Linked DNA regions of Homo sapiens: region 1 is linked to region 2. A link means that fine-mapping ties the variant in region 2 to the expression of a gene that starts in the linked region. Tissue or cell type: lung. Region 2 holds a variant in brackets; the other region holds the start of a gene. All regions are shown on one strand. Distances are from middle to middle.

Region 1 (2,679 bases), 120 kb before region 2:
AGCACCCTCCCCGTCCACAGGCAGCAGGACACCACGCTGCGCACCGGTTTTTCTTGCTAAATAGGGAGTGGGGAACTCCGAATATTCTTGCTGGAAAGGTTAAAAACGCTTTTCTTAAAGCAGCCTTGAGCTATTTATAAGTTGCACATCCCATCAACACCACACGAAGTACTGAAATACGATGCCGGCTGCCTCCTGGAAGCTACCGGACGGAGAAGGGGCGAAGGCGCCAGGCCGGACCGCGCCGGGGACCCCCGCCCGGGCCCCGACGTCACAGGCCGCCCCGCGGTCGCCCAGGCCTCCGGCATCACAGAGGCCCCCAGCCCCGGGACCAGGCGCCCTCCTCCTCCCCACCGCGCTCTCGGGTGGCTCCGACCTCAATCTTGCAGAGGCTGGGCTGGAAGATGAAGGTCCCCGCCAGGTCTGGATGTGGGAGCCCCGGGGTAGCGACCTCAGCCGTTCGCCCCCACACGCCACCCAGACAACCTCCCTCAACTTCGTCCAACTTGCCGTAGAGCCTCAGTGCCAGGGTTCGAGGGCCCTATCCCACCCCAAGCCAGCGTTTCCCCCGGAGCCCCGCACGAGGCTGGCGAGAGCTGGAAGGGGTGTGACCCCTGCCCCTCTCCTCCTACCTTCGGCGGCCACCAGGACCCTCAACTCTCCCTACTGTTCCCGGGCCCCTCCTCCTGAAACCGGCCCCCGGGACCCCAGTCTCACAGCGGGCCGAGCCGTGGTCCGCTAACCCCGCTGTCCCCGCGTACCCGGCGCCTGCAGGCCGCCCCCGGGGCTATCGGGCCGCTGAGCGACGGGCGCCGGGAGGCTCTTGCGCTCCTTCTGCGACTCCCTCCGGCCGCCCGCGCCGGCTCTGTGGCCCGAGGCCCCGGCTGGGCTCCTGCCGCCGCGGGGACCGGCCCCGGCCGCCGCCGCCGCCTCGTCGCGCCTCTTGCGCTGCAGCTGCTGCTGGCGCCGGCGCTCGGCCTCGCGCAGGATGTCGAACGGGTCCGACTCGTCGTCCAGCAGCTGATGGAAGCGGTTGGCCACCACGCAGCCGAAACTCTCCTGCATCGCGGCGCCAGCGGCAGCCACGGGACTCCCCAGAGCGCCCTTCATGCCGCCGCGACCACTGCGGGCCCGGGAGGGCAGCCCACGCGAGCGCGTCTCAGCGAAGCCGGCGGCCAGGACCCATGCCGCCCGCTCCGCCGCCACCGCCCTCCGGGCCCTACCCTGTCCGGCCCCTACCGGCGCCCGCCCCCGCGGCGCCGCCGCCGTCCGCCCCGCTGCGCCAGACAGCCAGTCAGCGCGCGCGGGTGCGCCCCCTTTCCGACACGGCGCGCCTGGAGACCCAATCACCGACCGGCTGCTGTCACGTCACGCGACCTCTGGGCCCCGCCCCGTTCGCTCAGCAGGGAGGGGCGGGGCCCAGGGGCGGAGCTACTGGCTGGTCCAGGCGGCGCCGACGAAGCGGTGGGGTCTCGGCTGTGTGTGCTTTCTCCCGGGACTGCGACCGTATTTGCTATGGGCCACTCTGCTTTGAAGCTTATGTATACATTTAGCCGTGCAACAGCTACATATTGCGCACTTACCGTGTGCCAGGCATTATGTTGTAGGAAATACTAGCTCCGTGTTGTCACAGATCTGAGTCTGTAGATGGAGAAAAAGTGCCCTGAAGGACAGGCGCAGAGCTCTCTACGGGCTGCAGCAAAGGGATCTGACCTAATTGGGAAATGACAGTTAAGCCGAGGGAGAGGGGTGACAAGGGGTTGGAGGAGGAACAGCAAGTGCAGCAGTCTTGAGGTGGGATGTGCACAGCCTATTCAAGCTCAAAGTGGTCTCTATTCTAAGAGCAGTGGGAAGCAAGTTTTGAGCATGAGCAGATTTGGGTTTGAAAAGGCCACCCTACCTGCACTGTGAACTAATAGTTTGGAGGGAAATACAAATGGATGCTGGGAAGCCAAACATGATTGTTGCAAAGCTCCAGGGAAGAGTTGATAGTGACTGGGATTAGGATGGTGGCGGTGGAGGCGAAGAGAGTAGATGGATTCAAAGACTTGGTGATGCGCTAGAGGTGGTGATGAGGGAGAAGAAGATACGGTGACTCTTATTTTCCTGGCTCCAGCATCTGAATGATAGTATTAGTTACCACTGGAAGACACTACTTTAACGGGAATCATTAATTCAGTCTGGGACACGTTGAGGTTTGGATATTTGTTTTCTTTTGAGATATTCAGTTGAGGCCTGGAGCTTAGAGAACGCCGGACTGGACTTCCTCCAGGAAATCTTTGCATAGGCAGCGGTGGAGACACGCTTGGCTGCCTATCCTACAGCCGTTCTTTCCCTCTTACATTTTTCCAGAGCCTGTATTTTGTTCAGGCATCATATTCCCCAGGGGAAGAGGGCCCCTTCCAGCCTCAAACTTGATTAATCATACATTATTCATTGCACCTGATTCCAATTCCTTGCCAGTAATTGGCTTAGGAATAGGCTGTGGGGCAAATCGGGCAGAACAGATCTGAGAAGTATTCTGGGAAAGTTTTTCTTGCACCTAACAAGGGATTGAGAAGGGATCTCCCCCCCTTCTGTTCCCTGGTCTTTGTTCCATGAGAAGACATGATGCCTCGGGTGGCTGTTCCTTAGCGTGGCCATGAGGATGGCAGAGCAGGATAGAGAAAGGCTAGATCC
Region 2 (2,679 bases):
CTCAATCTATTTAGAGGTTCATTTTTCCAAGGTTGAGGATGCACTTGGGGAAAAAGAAACACAAATCACAGTAGGATCTGTGGCCTGTGCTTTTTCCAAGGAGAATTTTGAAGACTTCAGTATTTAAAGGGGAAAGGGTGGCAGGAGGGGCAGAGGGAAAGAAAAAAAAAGGGAGGGAGGGTATGTCAGGAAGTGAGTGGTTACATTCTTGTAAGGTGAGTGAGTCCTACATTCTTGCAAGACTTTGATTAGTGCTCACTGAATCCACGTGTTACATGTGAAAGGAGGGGTCGAGGAACAATTATTCATTTGTCTGGCTTTCAGCAAATCTGCATTTTACATAAGATAAAAGCAAGCATACAGGAGAAGGAGGAGGCAATCACGCATTTGTCTTGGAGTGGGCAGAGGGATGATTTCTAGTTCTGTCTTTGTCCATACCTGTTTAAGATAAGCTATTAATTTACATCATCATGCGGGCATGGTGGCTCAAGCCTGTAATCCCAGCACTTTGGGAGGCCGAGGTGGGCAGATCACTTGAGGTCAGGCGTTCGAGATCAGCCTGGCCAACATGGCGAAACCCTGTCTCTACTAAATATACAAAAATCAGCGGGGCGTGGTAGTGTGCCCCTGTAATCCAAGGTACTTGGGAGGCTGAGGCACGATAATCTCTTGAACCTGGGAGGTGGAGGTTGCAGTGAGCCGAGGCTGTGCCATTGCACTCTAGCCTGGGTGACAAAAATAAATAAATAAATAAATAAATAAAATCAGGGTGAAATTCAGCAGAACTCTGTTTTAGGGTGAAGATTTTGGGAACTGCAAGGAACTTCCTTGTGAGCAATTTGCGAGGGAGGCCACCTGGGGAGATGTGTGGCCCTCTCTCTTTGCAGCTATCTATTGAGGAACAGAATGGAAGGCAGTTTTTGTGTGACTCAGTTTCCAGACTTAACTTCTCCCTTTGGCATTGTGAGTTTGGGGTTCTGAGATTTAATTTTCCTTTCACAACACTATCCTGAATGCCATAACCCCCAAAAG[A/G]TCTAACTTCAAAAAATTATAATCCTGAAAGAGTAGAATCTCAAATGTTGAAATCCTGAAAGCTGAATTCTGGGGAAGGGATTGTGTATTTCTGTTGTATGCAGGATACATGTTGTGTCACATCAGATGGATGCAACTAAATAACAAAATTTCTTTGTTACTGTCTTCATTCGGAAACTTAAGTATGGTTTAAGGCGATGCCTGTGGGTGCCAATTGACAAGCAGGGGGAATTGTGGAGTTAAATTCAGGTATCAATTCGACTGGATTAAGGAATACCTGGGAACCCAGTGAAGCTTTATTTTAGGTGTCTGTGTGTGTGTATATGTGTGGGGGTTTCCACAGGAGATTGGCCTGTGAGTCTGAGTGGACCAGGTGGGGAGGATTTGCCCTCATGGTTGGCAGGCACCAGCCAATTGGCCATGGGCATGGAGAGATCAAATACAGAGGCGAATCCATCCCTCTTTGAAATCTGGGACAGACTTTCTTCTGCTGCCTTGGACATCAGAACTCCTGGCTCACTGGCCTTGGGAATCTAGGGCTTCCACCAGCAGTCTGTGGTCAGGAGGCCTTTGGCCTTGGACCACCAAGTTACACCAAAGGCTTCGCTCGTTCTCAGGCCTTTGGACTTGGCCTAAGCCACGCTACTGGCATCTCAGGGTCTCCAACTTGCAGATGGCCTGTCTTGGGACTTTTTAGCCTCCATAATTGTGGGAGCCAATTCCCCTGATAAATCCCCTCTCATATATCTATACTTGTGTGTTCTATTGGTTCCGTTCCTCTGGGGAACGCTGACTAATATAGATTCCTTTATTGAGGAAGCCAAATATCATTCCTTCTTACTGTATTCCTAACAACACAACAGAAAAGATCTGTGAAAATGTTCTCTCACAAAAGGGCTGTGAAAAATAAAAGTTTAAAAGCTAGTTATTATTGGTGCCGCAAAAGCAGAACATTGCTTAATTGCAATGGCTGAGCAATTATCAAACTTGCAAATGGACAGCGTATGCTTACAAAATCCGTGGGCCACAGCCACTCTCCAAGTACCAGTGGAGGAGTGTTTTGAAGATCATAGATGTGAAAATGCAGGTGAGAAATACAAGAAATCTATGCCAGACACAGTGGCTCATGCCTGTAGCCCCAAAGCTTTGTTTGGGAGGCTGAGTGGGAGGATCACTTGAGGCCAGGAGTTTGAGACCAGCCTGGGCAACATATGAGAACTCATTTCTACAGAAAAAAGTTAGGCAAATGTGGTGGCATGTTCTTGTAGTTCCAGCTACTCAGGAGGGTGAGGCAGGAGGATTGCTTGAGCTCAGGAGTTTGAGGCTGCAGTGAGCTATGATGGCACCACTACACTCCAGCCTGGGCAACAGAGGGAGAGCCTGTCTCTAAAAAAAGTATATATATAAAAAAGTGTGTATTTATATATATAAAAGTATATATGTATATGTGTGTGTGTATATATGTAAATGTCTCCTGCCAAATTATTCAATCTTGTAGAATTTCTGTCCTTTAAAAGACATAAATAATGTCTTTTTTTTTTTTTTTTGAGATGGAGTCTCACTCTGTTTGCCCAGGCTAGAATGCAGTGACGCGATTTCATCTCACTGCAACCTCCGCCTCCTGGGTTCAAGCGATTCTCCTGCCTC

What was found. PIP is the estimated chance that this variant, and not a neighbour inherited with it, causes the effect.
Region 1: HABP4 starts here. The variant in region 2 is fine-mapped to the expression of HABP4 in lung (TOPMed, PIP 0.97). The same link has a PIP of 0.9 or more in thyroid and whole blood.

Annotation. Positions count from the first base shown.
Region 1 is chr9:96,448,711-96,451,389 of GRCh38, reverse strand. HABP4 (hyaluronan binding protein 4) reads right to left here and starts at 1,221. Exons shown (of 8, transcript NM_014282.4): 1 at 762-1,221. The coding sequence starts at 1,110. RefSeq lists silencers at 704-753, 834-893, 904-1,443 and an enhancer at 1,724-1,803.
Region 2 is chr9:96,328,989-96,331,667 of GRCh38, reverse strand. All of the region lies in intron 9 of SLC35D2 (solute carrier family 35 member D2), which reads left to right. The region is part of intron 9 of SLC35D2-HSD17B3 (SLC35D2-HSD17B3 readthrough); the gene reads left to right. Among named protein-coding and RNA genes, the nearest start is that of HSD17B3, 28 kb to the right of the region's middle. The variant A/G (reference allele first, on the strand shown) is at 1,033.